2 separate regions of the Homo sapiens genome follow, and region 1 is linked to region 2. Evidence: fine-mapped expression QTL. Tissue or cell type: prefrontal cortex. Region 2 holds a variant in brackets; the other region holds the start of a gene. All regions are shown on one strand. Distances are from middle to middle.

What was found. PIP is the estimated chance that this variant, and not a neighbour inherited with it, causes the effect.
Region 1: it holds the start of FRMPD2, and the variant in region 2 is fine-mapped to the expression of FRMPD2 in prefrontal cortex (GTEx, PIP 0.97).

What each region holds. Positions count from the first base shown.
Region 1 is chr10:48,270,595-48,278,700 of GRCh38, forward strand. FRMPD2 (FERM and PDZ domain containing 2) reads right to left here and starts at 4,102. Exons shown (of 29, transcript NM_001018071.4): 1 at 3,949-4,102. The coding sequence starts at 3,973.
Region 2 is chr10:48,445,520-48,453,625 of GRCh38, forward strand. ARHGAP22 (Rho GTPase activating protein 22) reads right to left here. Exons shown (of 10, transcript NM_021226.4): 8 at 7,785-7,906; 9 at 4,742-5,621; 10 at 517-1,100. The coding sequence ends at 872. Among named protein-coding and RNA genes, the nearest start is that of ARHGAP22-IT1, 62 kb to the right of the region's middle. RefSeq lists an enhancer at 1-550. The variant GCTGA/G (reference allele first, on the strand shown) is at 4,530.

The sequences.
Region 1 (8,106 bases), 170 kb before region 2:
CAGCCATGTCTTAAGCTCAGACCCGTTTCTTGAGCTCCTGCTTGGTGATCCCAGGATGTCCTTTAGACAACCCCCTTAGATGTAGAGAGCTGAATTCACCTTCCCCCCACCTCCTCCTCTTTCAACCTCTCTTATTTGAATACAGCAAATGGCATTCCCACCACCTAACCCCTCAAGCCAAACATTCAGACGACATTTTTGTCTCCTTCCCATCCCTCAACTTCCCAGCCCGTTAATCACCATCTCCAAAATCTCTCTAAAATCCGCCTGTTTCTCTCCAACCCCACCACCACTGACCTGGTCTAAGCCACCAGCACCCTCCCCTGAATGACCACTGAAATGTAAATTCTACAAAATGGTTTCCTACAACCATACCTTGCCCCTGCCCTGATCCATTCTCTGTCTTGCAGAGTCCTCTTCCTAAAACACAAATCTGACCATGTCACACCTCGTGAAAACTTTCAGCCACTTTCTATTCTCCAAAGGATCAGCTCAGATCCTGAGCAAGATTTGCAGGACCTCAGGCCCACCGCTTTGGACTGATCTCTAGCAGCTTCCTCTTTCCCCCATGGCCTTTTTCCAGCCTTAGACGCACCACAACCCCCTTGCCTCCTGTCCTTCTGCAGGCTCTGTGGGGACACTCGCATCTGGAGCTCCTTCTTCCCCCACTGGCTGAATGACTCAGTAAATTAACAAGTGAATACTTCAGATGCTGCCTGCACTCTGGACTGGCATCATACAAAAATGATACTGATAGAAGAAACAAAAGAAATTCCTAGATGGCACTTTTTTAAAATGTCTAATACATTTACTCTCCAGCCAGACACTGTTTAACCCATCTTGAATCTATTGAAGAGTGAGTTCTGACAGCTCAGCCTTGATCTGCCTCCTGCCTGGCACCAGCCCTCCTGGAACTGGTTCCTGTGCACCATCCTACACATCTCCTTCCTGCCTCCCTTCACTACCTACTCTATTTCCAACAATGTTGGGCTATGATAGCTCAAGCAAATACAGGAATAAGGAGGCTTACAGCCAAGGCAAGAAAAAAAAAGGGAGGGCAGTTAACAGTAGAGCTGCCAGCGACCAGTAAAAGGAAGCCTGAGGAATAGGAATCAGCCTCGAAAGCAGACTTCTGCCAGGAAAGCAGCTAAAAACACTGATATCTCAGGGTGAATACAATTCAGGAGGGGAATGAGAATAGAAAAGCATAGTGGCTGGAAGAGCAGGCTCCGAGGTCAGAGCTGGATTGATCCCACCTCACCGTGGGCAAGTTACTTCCTCTCTTTACTCGTTTATACCATGAGTTATTGTGTCTGGCATATGGCAGTTTTTCAATAAATCCTAGCTATTCATATTATGAATCCTGAGTATATGGAGAGGGCAGGGAATAGGCTAGAGACAAGCCAGCAAAACTGGGGTTTCAGACCAGAAATGACTTCACTAATGGAGCTGCAGGTAGCATTGTCCTGGGCTGCACACCGCAGCCCTTGCTATTCCTGAGCAGTTGAATTCATAGTCATCTATTCATGGTGTTCTTTTTAATAAGTCCAACATTTTGGTGAGTGACAGCTTCATCCCCAGAGAGAAGGAAGTATTCTTCCTAATTCTTCCTTCGTGCCCCCTTCATTTGCACCCATGAGTCATTTTCTCACCACTCTGTATTCTGCTCCTTAAACCTTTCTTGGATTCTGTGATATGCTGAAGAAGGCTCCTACTGGCCTGTGAGAGCCAATTGTTAAATTTCCAGAAATTTTGTAAGCTGGTCATTAAACACAGCCATTACCAAAAAGTATTATAAAAATCTCCAATTAAATAAGTTATATTAACAATATGTTGAAACTCACCATTTCCAAATTATTTTACTGCATTTTACTGTTGTCTGTGCTTTGGAACTTATTTAAATGAAATACATTTCTATGATGGAAATACTGTGTAATGGTGTGCTGGTGCACAGCCCTTCCACCTTTGTGTTCAGCGATATCACATTGGGAGCTTGTGATTGGCCATGGTGGTAGTATTTATACCACAAAAATTGGCAAAAGCTACAAATTAGGGCTTGGTTTGCTGTTTTTTCATTCCCTAAGAAAACTAAGAAAGTGATGGAGAAAATGTTCATGCAGATTAAACCTAAAAGTGTGTCGCGTCCATAGTTGTTACATTGTGAATAACACAAAAATTGGGAAAACACTCTTCCAAATTCAAAAACTATGATCTGATCCAGCAGTCACTCATGTCATTGACAGATGAGTGAAGTTAAGACAATCATCTTCATTGTTTCACTTTCTTCTTACTTGTCAATGTAAACAAAAATATCAACCAACATTCATATTGGAACTACATTCAGTGGTCAATTGCAAACAGGCTGACCAAGGGTATAAGAGTTCAGCAAAAATCAACAAATGCATGCTGTGAGAATCAAATGGCTATATAGAATTTGTAATAAAGAGTATTTTATATTTTATTACTTGTAAATTGTGCAATATACATCCTTCATATCAGTAAAATTTATAATGAACTTATTAGATGCATATGTATTTGTTTTTGCTCACAGTGCTGGCAGCACCAGCTTGGAGACCTCCCCTTCTCTACATTCCACTGTTGTTTTCTTAGGTTAGGCCATCTGTCATCATTCCAGGTTTCATCCTCTCCAATCCCACACCCATATTGCTACTAGATTAATCTTCTTAATATTAAATGCAGACACGACACATCCTTCATTAAAACTACCAGTGCCTATCTGGGACCTTCTGAGTGAACTCTGGGCCATAGAAGGCCTTCCTTGCTCTCCCCTGTTCACCTCTGCAGCCTCCTTTCTTATCAGATTCCCCTGTTCCCACTTTACTAAAGTTAGGCCAAACTGCCTGCTGTTCCCAGAGCATGCTTTACTTATTCATGCCACTGGGCCTTTGCATGTGCTTTTCTCTGCTTGGGATGCCTTTTCCAATCCCCCTGCTCCCAACTCCTGCTAGTGTTCGCTTAGCATTAAAGCCATGCTCAAGCAACACCTCTCCCAGGAGCCCGTGCCACCTCCATTTCGGCACTTGCTATCACCGCCAGTTTTCATGCAGGTCCAGCATTCTGCCCCCCGACCCCCACTGTCCTACAACCTGGAAGATCCTCTGGGCTGGGGGAGACATCCCCAGCATTTGGCATGTGGCCCCAGGAGATACCAAGTAAGTTCTCGTTGAATTAATGAACTACTTAATTGGTTTCAGCTACAGCCTATAGCAAATCACAGGATTTAGCCAGGAGAAATAGACACGACTCATCTCTGAACTCAATTGTTGCTTTAAAAAAAAAAAAAAGTTGTTTACACTGTTGAAAACCTCAACTGAGTTTTTTCTTTCCTTTAAGCATACAAATAAAGCCAGGTGAATCATTTCTTTTCCATTGTTTTCTGGAAGTCAGCTAGGCATACCCTGAGTCTTCTTACTTTAAACCACTGATACTCTTTAAGCAATAACCAAAACACTTGCTTCTGAAAGATAGTGACAGCCATGATTTACTGGGCTACTCAAATGCTCCAAGTATGTTCTAAGTGCCTTACGCGTGTCACCCCATGAATCCTCAGCAACATCGTAACGCATGGGGCATTATTATCCCCATTTTACAGGTAAGAAAAACGAGTCTTAGGAAAGTTAAAAGAGTCATTTGAATTTGCACAGATGCTGAATAGCAAAGCAGTGATTCAAACAAGGGGTGGTCTGATTCTAAAGTCCATGTTTTCTCTTCTGAGCCCATTCTTTATTGCTAAAAAACAAATACAATGTCTATCAGGCTTAGCCAATGGCCTGGAACAAATAATACTCCAAATAATACCACAAAGGGCACTGACACAGGTCCTTGCCCAGCTGTGTTCTTCTTATTCCGGATACCTAGACCCAGTAAGAAGTTTGCCCTTTCCCTGACCAGATTTATAGGAGAAAACTGAATGATGCCAAGGAATACCTGCGTCCTTCGTTAAAGGCTGCATCCAAAAGTCTCCGTGACCAGGTCTAGGCCTTCATCATGGGACAACTTTCCAACAAGGAGCAGGGGTCTCTTGCAAGTCTGTCCGCGGAGCTCCCTGCCACCAGCACTGTTGCCGCTGTCTTTGTTTACTGCTTGTCACTAAGCACTTGCTGCCCAGCGAGTGAGTCAACAAGGCCCCTTCCCTTTCCTGCCACCACTCTCATTCCCTGGGTCCTGCGCAGTCTCTGGCCTGTTAGCAGGCACTGCCACCCCAGCAGCCTGCGTCCTCAAAGCCAGTGACCCGTGAGAGAGCCAGGAAGAGCTCAAGTGGATTAGGTGCCACTGAAGGCAATGGGATTGCTGCTCAGCAGGGCTTTTACGCTGATGTCTCTTTATCTCCTGGCCCAATCAAAAGAAAGAGCTCTGCAAGGAACTGGGGGCAGCCCCAGAGCAGAGGCTTAGTGTCATCAACTCAAGAGTCCTCCATGCCCTTTCATAGTGTCAGACATTGGACCTGCAACCAACAGGACAGGGAACCATGTGAAAGCAGCAGGAGGAAATGATAACCTGGATCTGTCTGTGAGAAAGCAAGAAAAATGTGGTTAGAGAAAGGGGGAAAGGAATTCTTACTCTTTCTGGTGCTTGGATTCAGAAAGGAACCAGCAGAGATGGGGAACAGCAAGAAGTAGATCATAGCTCTGTAGTAGAAGGGGCAAAAGAACAGATCTCTCAAGCCCTTTAAATCAATAGCAGTGTCAAAACTGAGACGTATTTATTTAAAAAGAAAACATGAGTTTTTGCCTGACTACAGAATAAAATACTAAAATTTGAGGCCGGGCACAGTGGCTCATGCCTGTAATCCCAGCACTTTGGGAGGCCAAGGCGGGCAGATCACGAGGTCAGGAGATCGAGACCATCCTGGCTAACATGGCAAAACCCCGTCTCTACTAAAAATACAAAAAATTAGCTGGGCCTGGAGGCGGGTGCCTGTAGTCCCAGCTACTCCGGAGGCTGAGGCAGAAGAATGGCGTGAACCTGGGAGGCGGAGCTTGCAGTGAGCCAAGATCGGGCCACTGCACTCCAGCCTGGGTGACAGAGCGAGACTCTGTCTCGAAAAAAAAATCTGATGAAACTCAGTGCTGGTGAGGGCATGGAGAATGAGTACTCTCATATGCCAATAGTGAGATTACAGATAAGTGCAACTTCTCTGCAGGGAATTTGGTAATATTCATCAAATTTGTAAATGTACATATCCTTTGTAAACCCAGCTGCTAAGAAGTAACCCCATGGACATTCTTGCAAAAGTTCACCAAAGCATCTGAGAAAGGATGCTCTTTGCAGTGTATTTTGGTAGTAGCAGAAAACTGAAAGCCACTGAAGTGCCCATCAACAGTGATTATTGTAGTTCACACACAGTAGAAAACCAGCTATGCAGCTGTGTAAAGGAAGGAAGTAGATCTGTGTGTGCTGGCATATAACAATTGCCTAGAAAATTCTTTAAGTGACAAAAGGTATGGAATAGCCTAGTATGTTTCCTTTTATTACAAATAGGTACATAAAGACCAGGTATATTTACGTATATTTATGTATACATATTCTTTATACACTGTAGTATATTAGAATATTATGTAGACATATTCTTGTGGTTCTGGAAGGAATCACAAGCAACTTAATAGTGGTTGCTAGGGGAAAGAGTTTTGGCTCATTATTTAGTCAGGAAAATTATTGTTCATTTTGGTATTTTCCCCCTATAACCTTATGTTATATTACTTGAAAAAAACTAAAAAACACAATGTTTTACATTTTTTTCTGCTTAAAGCTATCTATATTGACATTCCCTGCTAGCTAGCAAAACATTTCACAATATCTGCAACAATCTTTTACTGTTTTTTCCAAACTTGTCTTCTCATCAGATTCAGCCTTGAAGACGATAAAATGCAGATTCCCAGGCACCACCCTGAATCTGCTGAACCTGAATCTCTGGGCCCGAGCCAGAGCATCTGTATTTTCAGCAAGTGTCCAGGTAATTTTTATTTAGTAATTTTTTCAGGCTGACCACGCAACCTTTCTCCCAGAAGAAGAAAGTTGACTTCTCCAGTCATGTGGCTCGTTCACAACAGAACAAAAAGCAACACCTAAGTCATCTGCCAACAGGTAAATGCTGGTCTGCTTAAAGTCACCACCACTTTCACTTTTTCTGTTAAAAATACTAGCAGTAACCCCCTTCTATTGTTGCTCTGCTAACATTTCATTAAGTCCATTTTTTTGCATAAAAATTTTATCAATGTGTTTTTGTTTTTCAAGTTATCAAAGCTAATAGTTTCTCTCTGAGTTATCTCTGTGTCATTCCCTATATAATTTTGTTATATTTTATATATTTTTATTTTTTAAGGTTATTTTCCTGTCAAAATTCTTTATTGCGTATGATCATTTAAAAAAAAAACTTTATTTTAGGTTCGAGAGTACATGTGAAGTTTTGTTACAGAGGTAAACTCATGTCATGGGGGTTTGTTGTACAGATTATTTCATCACCCAGATATTAAGCCCAGTACCCAGTAGTTATTGGTTCTCTGTCTACTCACACCCCCCCAACCCTCAGGTAGACCCCAGTGTCTGTTGTTTCCTTCTTTGTGCTCATAGTTCTCACGATCCAGCTCCCACTTATAAGTGAGAACATACTGTATTTCATTTTCTGTACATGAATTAGTTTGCTAAGAATAATAGCCTCCAGCTCCATCCATGTTCCCATGAAAAACATGATCTCATTCTTTTTTATGGCTGCATAGTATTCCATGGAGTATGTATACCACATTTTCTTTATCCAATTTGTCATTGATGGGCATTTACATTGATGCCATGTCTTTGCTATTGTGAATAGTGCTGCCATGAACATAAATGTCCATGTGTCTTTATAATAGAACAATTTATATTCCTTTGGGTATATACCCAGTAATGGGATTGCTGGGTAAAATGGTATTTCTGTCTCTAGGTCTTTGAGAAATTGCCACACTGTCTTCCACAATGGTTGAATGAATTTACATTCCCACCAACAGTGTATAAGTGTTCCCTGTTATTTGCAACCTTGCCAACATCTGTTTCTTTATACATATTTTATTAATAGCCATTCTGACTGGTGTGAGATGGTATCTCATTGTGGATTTGATTTGCATTTCTCTCATTATCAATGGTGTTGAGCTTTTTTCATACACTTGTTGGCCGCATGTATGTCTTCTTTTAAGAAGTTTCTGTTCATGTCCTTTGCCCACTTTTTAATAGGGTCGTTTGTTTTTCTCTCGTAAATTTGTTTAAGTTCCTTATAGATGCTGGATATTAGACTTTTGTCAGATGCATATTTTGCAAATATTTTCTCCCATTCTGTAGGTTGTCTGTTTACTCTGTTGATAATTTCTTTTGCTGTGCAGAAGTTCTTAAGTTTAATTAGATCGCACTGTCAATTTTTCCTTTTGTTGTGATTGCTTTTGGTGTCTTTGTCATGAAATCTTTGCCAGTTCCTATGTCCTGAATGGTATTGATTGCCTAGGTTGTCTGCCAGTGTTTTTATAGTTTCTGGTTTTACATTAAGTCCTTAATCCATCTTGAGTTAATTTTGTATATGGTGTAAGGAAGGGGTCCAGTTTTAATATTCTGCATGTGGCTAGCCAGTTATCTCAGCACCATTTATTGAACAGGGAGTCTTTTCCTCATTGCTTGTTTTTGTCAGCTTTGTTGAAGATTCACATGGTTGTAAGTGTACAGCCTTATTTCTGGGCTTTCCATTCTGTTCCATTGGTCTATGTTCCTGTTTTTGTACCAGCATCATGCTGTTTAGGTTACTGTAGCCCTGTAGTATAGTTTGAAGTTGGGTAACTCAATGTCTCCAGCTCTGTTCTTTTTGCTTCAGATTGCCTTGGCTACTCAGGCTGTTTTTTGGTTCCATATGAATTTTAAGATAGTTTTCTTCTAGTTCTGTGAAGAATATTGTTGGTAGTTTGATGGAAATAGCTTTGAATCTGTAAATAGCTTTGGGCAGTAAGGCCATTTTAATGACTTTGATTCTTCCTATCCATGAGCATGGGATGTTTTTCCATTTGTTAGTGTCTTGTCTGATTTCTCTGAGTAGTGTTTTGTAATTCTCATTGTAGCAATCCTTCACCT
Region 2 (8,106 bases):
ATAAGCCAGAGTAGGGGGGTGAACAGCAGGGAAGCGGGGGCTGGAAGGGAGCTGGGCAGGCGCCCAGAGTGAGGCATAGGCACCTGGAGTACGGTGAACAGACGTTTCCCATGGCCTTGGCTCAGCCCTCCTGTAGAGTGGCCACACTTGCCCACACCTCGCCCAAGCACAGCATCTGTGCTGGGTGCCCACTCAGGCTCTGGCCCTGGAGCAGAGCTAGGGCCATGGTGGAAAGCCCAGGGGACCTCCCAAGACAGAAACTAGCTGCAGAGGTCCAGATGGCTACGGGGCGGGGGGGAGTAAAGAAAGGCATCCCACCTGGAACATGCAGACGAGACAGCTGAAAGCACAAGGCTGTTGCCCCTTGGGGGGCTTCACGTCCCACTTCACAATGCCTGTGCTATTCCACCCAGGGGCATACCTCAGGGGGCTCCTAGCCCTTGGAGAAACAGGAGTGGTCCTGTATTGTGTCCTGTATTGCGAGGCATGAAAAATGAGCCAGGTAACAAGGCACCATGCTTTGTGAGCACATTTAATAAAGAAAGCTGACTGTTCCCGGTGGCTGCCTGGATCCTGGGCGCCCTCCATTTCTGTGGCCATGAAGGATATTTCCTGGGTAAGGGCTAAGCGCTACTCTTGGTACCGTCCCCTTCTGACCCTCACCAGGAACTGCATGGTTGGAGCAGCATCTGATCCCACCTGGAGTGTGTGGGGTCCCAAAAGTCCCCACAGTCCCCACAGAGGTATCAGGATCTCTCTCTCTCCAGCTGGCTCCAGAGCGCCTGGCTGCTCCAGAGATACAGACGCTTCTAACTCCATACAAGGCTGGAGACCAGCAGACGTGGTACAGAAGTGAGCTCTGCCATTCCTTTTACTTTGGGGCCCTGGCACCTTTTGCCCCAACAGTCAAGCTTCCTAGGGTCGAAAAAAACTCCTCCATTTCCCTCTGCAACAGCTGGTTCCTCCTCTCCGCATCCTCCCGCGCCCGTTCAGAGTTCCGCAGCTTTATTTCCAGCATGATGTATTTTTTCTTTTCCTGGTCCAGTTCTTCTTCTAACCGGGACATTCGTTTTCTCAGGTCAGCACTCCCTTCTTCGATTCTGAAAAGTCAAGGAGAGATGCTGTTTGAGACTCTGCGGGCCAGGTTCACTGTCCCATGGGTATACCATGCTTGTGCTCACTGTGGGTTGAGGGGTCAGGCCAAGCCATGGCGGCAGGAGGAAACCCTGGCTCATCTGCTCCTCACAAGAACCCCAGTACTTCACCCATGAGCAAATTGCCCCCTGCCATAGCTCCCCTAGCTCCTCTGGGCCTGTGATCCCGAAATGCCAACACAATGATCCATGCCTTCGGTGCCTCCCTGGGTCCGCATTTGCCCCTCCAGTGCAGTATGGGATCCCTGCCAGCTGGTAGGAACAGTACAGGCCCCTGCATGGGGAGGGTTGGGACTCGGACTGTCCCCTGGCCTTTGCTCCTGTGCTGTGGCCTCCCCTCCCACAGCTCCCTGCAGCTCCCCACACTGTCCCCATGATCCAGCCACACGTGGTGACCCACAGAAGATCCTGTGGGGTAGTCACTTCCCTTCCTGCTCTCCCGTCATGTTCAGCTCAAGCGCCCCCTCCATGATGCTACTTCCTGTGATCCTCCCCAGCAGGTCACAATGGTGCTCCTCTGTGCCACCAGAGCCTATACCACACGCTTCCATGCAGGCTCATGCTGCAGTGTGCCAAGGTTGGCATGGCCATCTTTTTGACCAGACAACCAGCTTCTGTCTTTCCGAAGGGACACACCTGAGCCCAGCCCCTGGGAACATATGCTGGATTTTAATGCCCAGCCTGGTGACCTCTGAGCCACATGGCTGTGGACAGGACACAAGCCACAGTGAAATGCAGAGGGTAACTGCTCCTCAGAGCACTGGTAACCATGGACTGGAACATGCCAGGGGCCAGCACAGCACCTGGTACGTGGTGCATGATGAATAAACACGGATTCCTCAACCCACCAAAACGAAGCCTCCATCCTCATCACTGAGCTTGAAGCATGGCCTGAGCCCTCCCTACCAGGATCACAGACAGCTGTCAGAGAGAAGCCACCCACCTCCCCACTGCTGCCCCTGGCTCGGGCCTGGACCTCCCCTCTTCCTTCTCTGTCAGGCTCAAGACTCCAAGCCCCAACTACACGCTGATGACCCTGCACCATTTCATCAGCATCTCTGACTTAAAGGGTCCTGACCCTCATCTCCAGACCACTCTTCCGCAGCCCTGGTGCACTCTTGGTGAACACCTTCCCTCAGCTGCTCAGCTGAACAATGATGTCCTCCCCTAAGTCCATTCTTTTTCTCGGTCCCATATCTGATCAGTTAGCAAAACCTTTTGGCTCTACCTTCAAAATATGCTCAGCACCTGGCCGCTTCCCCCACCTCCACCTGCTGCCCCATAGGGCCACACCCCCCATAGGTCAGGCCTAGACCCCCACACCTCCTAACTGGTCTGTTCTGCCCTTGTCCCCTGGCAAGCTCTGCTCGGCATGGCACCCAGGTGCACCTGTCAAAGTGCCCAATGTGCCAAGACCCTCCAGCGGCTTCTCACTTCATTCTCATCTCACTCCACGAAAAACCAGAGCATTGCCCAGGCCAAAAGGCCCCACCCATTGCCCCCTCCCCACACATCTCCAGTCCCCAGCCCCTGACTCTCCCCCACTACAGGGGTCTTGGGGTCAGTGCTGGCTGCAGCTCTGGGGTCTCCTTCCCAGGGCCCTCCAACCTTCTACCCTGAGGCTCCTCTCCGCTCCCCTCCATGCTGCTCTATGTTCCCCTCCTTCATCTCCCTTTTAACACACCGTGTATTTTTAAAAATGTATCGTGCTTATGGTCTTTGTCTCCCTGCAACCCAAATAAGAATGGGGACAGAGATTTTGATCAGTTTTCACCCCAACTGTGGCCACCTGCACAGCATCTGGTACTTCACAGAAAACAGGTTCTCTTTTGGGAATGCACGAAGGAAGGCTGACTTCCCAGCAGGGCCCTGGGGAGGGGCTCTGACCAGAGTCCTGGGAGCCAGGACAAGGCCAGCCTCACCCCACCCCCCACCCGATGGCCCATACTTCCAGAGAACAGGACACACATTCCCCAATCACCTGCTGGACAGGACAGGTGCTAATGCCCTCACCTTCCTTCCTGTGCTCAGAGACCTTCCTCACTCTAGACCCTCCCTCTAACCAAGACAACGACCCAGACCACTCTGCTAGCGAGTACAGTCCCTCCACAAGGGCTACCACTGCTATCCCTTTTCCTCTGGGAACCTCATCTTACCTCCAGCCACCAGGCAGGAGTCAATGCGAGCAGCAAAGTTTCCCGAGCGCTCTCATCCACTGTGAGTCACTTAATACTCAGGACAAATGGGTGAGGTCACTGGGGCCCAAAGATCCTGCCAGGGACACTCAGCCAATCCCTGGTGGAGCTGGGACTAGAATCCAAGTAGTCTGACCTGGAGTCAAAGAGCCCTGCATCTCCCTTGAGAAACCAGGCCTCAGAGCAGGCCAGAGGAGCTCCAGGCACTCAGCACACAACTGGCGCAGCTGGTCCAGCCCAGCCTTCTGCATGGACAGCCTTCTGTATGGTAAGAGTTCCCATGTACCCTGTAGTTTGGTCTGTGAGCTCATCTGCAGCAGATAGCATCTTCTACTATATTTCTGGAGGCCCTTGGGTTCTACTGATGCTATTTCCTTTCTCGGCTCCATCCTATGGGTCCTTCCAGCCCTGGCTCAGGCACTGCCTGCTGTGACTTCCCCCATGGCAGAGGCCTCTGCCCTCAAGGTCCCTCTCCTTCTCTTCCTTTTGCAGACATGGTGCCTGTACATGCCTGGCACTCTCCATCACCCAGGGAACAGCTGTCAGCAGAGCAAAAGGGCAAGGGCTGCCATTCCAGCTCCCAGTGGAAATCACAGGCTCAGAGTGGGCAGCAGGAATGCCTTCCACCTCCATCCACTGCCTCTAATGGATAAAGGAATTCCCTGCTAGTGGGTGGGACCCAGGTGAACAGGTCGGCCAGCTAACGGGGACCTGCAGCCAGAGGGACCAAGGAGTCTGAGATGCTGAGGGAAACGCCCTGCGCTGGAGAACCTGGTCTCCAGGAGCTGAGGTTCCTCACTGCAGAGGGCAACCCCGGTCCTCATGGGAGGCTGGAACTCTGGCCCTCTGTTAGTGAGATTGTAAGCCTCAGGGTGCAGCACAACCATCCTGTGACAAGGGCGGACACGAGGGCTTGGTTCAGCAGGGAAACTGGATTCTGATCCCATCAAGGAAGGGGTCCTCACTTCCAGCCTGGCTGACCTGGGGCCTGGGCACTTCCTGGCACTCAGCATCCAGGCTATGAGCCCTTGTACTGGGACAAGCCTGGGACCTGCCTCCAGGGGCCGCCCCCTCCCTGGCTGCAGACTGCACACTGACTCTGTTTCCACCCCTGCAGCAAAGGTCCCCGGCAGGCTGGGCAGGCATTCCCACTTGCGTGGAGTCAGCAGGCCTCTGCAGC[GCTGA/G]CTGCGTGCCAGACTGACTGCGTGCCAGACTGACTGTGTGCCAAGTCTGCCAGTCCTAGGGCTTTCCCAGAGCTAGGATTCCCCTCTCTGAGGCTGGCTTCCAGGGCCAGCGGCCCAGAGGTTAGGGGCCGACGCCCATGTGCCAAGAGCACGGCTCTCCCTGCAGGCTCCGCCCCGTCACAGGAGGCTCCACGGGGCAGCAAGTTACCTTTTCACACTCCTCTCGTACTCAGTCCGCTGGCGGCACAGCTCGGCCCTGAGCTCAGTGACCAGCCCCTGTAAGGCCTCGGAGCGGCGCGCGTGTTCCCGGGTGGGGCTGTCCGGCTCGCTGGGCTCGCTGTTGCTGGCACCCGCGCCCGCCTCGTCCATGCTGTGGTCCAGGTCCAGGGACTTGGGGTCCTCGCTGCTGCTGGGGAGCGGGGAGGGCTCCAGGGCCCAGTCGGTGTGCAGGGAACTGCGGGCAGACGAGTCGCTGGCGCGGCAGGCCGTGCAGCTGCTGAGTGAGCCCCCCACCGACGACTCGCTGGACGAGGCCCCGGACCACGCCATACTGGCCACGCTGGGTATGCCGGGGACCAGGCCCGGCGCGGGCACATTGTCGTAGGTGGAGAGTCTCTGCACGGAGCCCGAGTCCTTGAGCCGGTCTCCCGACGAGGCCCGGCGGTGTCCGCGCAGGGAGGACAGCCCGTTCATAAGCCAGTTCCCGCCGGAGGAGATGATGGGCACCTCCAGGGATGAGCCGCCCCCCTTCGGGCTTCCCGATAGGGACCTCGGCTGCCGGAAGGAGGACTTCCAACTGGGCAGGGTCTGCACCTTCTTCCCAGGGCTGCACCGGCTCCCCGGCCCCGTGGGGGCTGTTCTGGAGAGCACCGCCACGGCCGCCCCGTCCAGGGAAGAGGTCCTGTGCGCGGGCAGGCCGGGGCCGCCGGGCTCTCCTTGGCTGTCCCTGGTGACCTCCTCGGAGCCCCACCCCACTGCGCATTGCAGGCCCCCGCGCGGGGAGGTGGGCCCTTCCGGGACCGGTGCCGTGAAGAGCTGGCTGTGTTTGCGGATGAGGACGGTCATCAGGTGCTGGACGAGGGAAGTGCCTGCCGGGAAGAGAGGCGGAGAAGGGCCTTGCTGCCAGCCACTCGGCCCAGGCTCGCTCTGCCAGTCATGGAGAAGCTGCAGCTTCGTGGGAGCTGGCCCTGTCCCCAGAGCCAGGCCGCCCCTCAAGGGAGCCTTCATCCGCCCAGAGGAAAGGACCACACACCCTCCAACTCCAGGCAGGACAGCAGGATGGGGCCGCAGAACCGCCTTCCTCAGGCACAGAGCCGCAAGCAGGGAGGAAGCACTGTGCCTGCGCTCACGCCCTCCAGCTGGGGTGGGGTGAGGAAGCAGGCACCAAGGCTGCACGGTGAGCAGGTGGCAGGTTGGAACTGGAACCTGGGACCTGAGATGCCAGAACTCTCTCGGCTGCCCCACGTCACCCCTCTGTGCTGCTGACAACTGCCATGCCTGAATGTCCACACTCTGGGAGCATAGGGCTCTGGGACAGGGAATAGAGCCATCTTTCCTGTGTGGGGGCACACACATACAATTGCACACACAATGCACCCCGCCCACCCCCTAAAATACCCCCCACAATCACACGTACAATGCACCCCATCCACCCCCAAAGTCCCACACACACACACAACTGGACAATGCACCCACCCAGCCTCCCCAAATCCCCCAACACACAATCGCACATACAATGCCCACTCCCGAAAATCCCACACACATAAAATTACACACACAATGCACTCTACCCAGTTTCCCCAAAGCCCCTACACACACACAAGTGAACACACAAATCCCCTACCCAGCCTCCCCAAATCCCCCCATACAGAATCGCACAATGAACCCCACCCACTGCCCAAAATCCGCCACACACAATTGCACACACAATGCACCCTCCGCAGCCTCCCCAAATTCCCCCATACACAACTGCACACATAGTGCACCCTGCTCACCCCCCAGAATCCCACATACATATAATCTCGCACACACACAATCCCCCGTGTCTAGGCCAAGGCCCCTGAGATGCAGCCCCCAGTCCTGGGGACTCAGTTCCTACGGTGGTGGGGTGGGGGCCTGCAGCGGAGGTGGGCAGTGCAGGAAGGACCAGGGCATCTATCCAGCTGCCTCATTCCCTCCTGCCACCCTCACCACAAAGGCCCGACGCTAGGAGGTCCCCCGGTAGGAGGGAGGGCTGAGTGCCAGGGTGGACTCTCCCACTGAAGTTGACTAGGAATCCTGGAAGAAGTCAAGGAAGGAATTCTGAGGCCAAGAACCTAGGTGAAGCAGGAACTCCATGAAGCAGGCAGGGCAGGCCTCCTCCCTCAAGCATCTGTACCACCAGGCAGGTAGGAGCTTGTGTTTTCCTGGCCTCAAGGGGCCCTGGGGTGGGAGACCCAGCCAGGGCTGACCAAAGTGCGGACTTGAGCAAAAGCACTCCGCCACGTCCCTCAACATGGGATAAGGGCAAGAACAGCCTCAGCTGTGGGCTTCCTGTCTGAGCAGCACGTCTCTCATGCATACTCCACTGGGGACAGTGTTCCATGGGCCCTATGAGGTGGGCTGTCTTTTCTATGGCAGCCTACACCTGTGCCCTTTGCTAAGTCTGGCTGACTGGCCTCTGGTGAGTCCCCTCGCCTCTCTTGGCCTCAGTTTCCTCATCTGTAAAGTGGGGGCGATTACCACAGCACAGGCTGGTTGTAAAGCCTGAAATGAGATGATACAAACAAAGCACTTGGTAGAAGCTTACTGAAAGCGGCTGCTGTTGCTGCTATTTTTAATCACTTATTGTTATTTATCATAGAGAAATTCTCCAGGGTTTGCAAAGCTGACATCCAGGAACCTATGACAATTGCTTAATTGTAAAAGAAAAGCAAACATGTCTGTGTTCAAGGGCAAAAGTGCTGACCTCTCCCATCCCTCCAGCCTCTTCCATCCACAGAAACCCCTGGCTATTCTAATTGCACCCAGTGACCTGCTGCTGCCCATCGCAGGGCAAAGTTCCTTTTTTATCTTATAGCTGAACCTCATGGGGGTCGGGGGTGAGGTCTGCAGAAGTTCCTGCCAAGTCCCCAGAGATGGAGATGTGCCACCTGAGCCACCCCTCCTGCTGGCCTGGCCCTGGGCTGGGATGGTTCCAAGGACTTGCCGTGGACCAAGATGAGCCCAGACCCCGGCAGCACCCAGGGCCACCAGGTACACCTCCCACTTACCTTCCATGATGGTTACTGGGTCCTCTACCTGTGGCCGCAGAATGTTAGGTCCAAAAACGGTTGCCAGATTCTGGACACTCATCTTGTTGACATTTGAGTATGCCTGAACTTCATCCAGAAACCTGCAAAGTAAGGAAGCAGCAGTCATCAAAGAAGCAAGTTGTGATGCCCAGTCTCCTGTGTGCGGCCTGGACGCACCGCCACACCCCTGCTGAGCCCTGCTGCCTGTGGGCTTTTGCCCACTGGGTGTAGCCTGCCTCTGCCAGGCTCGATGAGGGAAGGCTTCCCCTGGGGCCCAAGAGGGCCATCAGAAGTAAAAGTC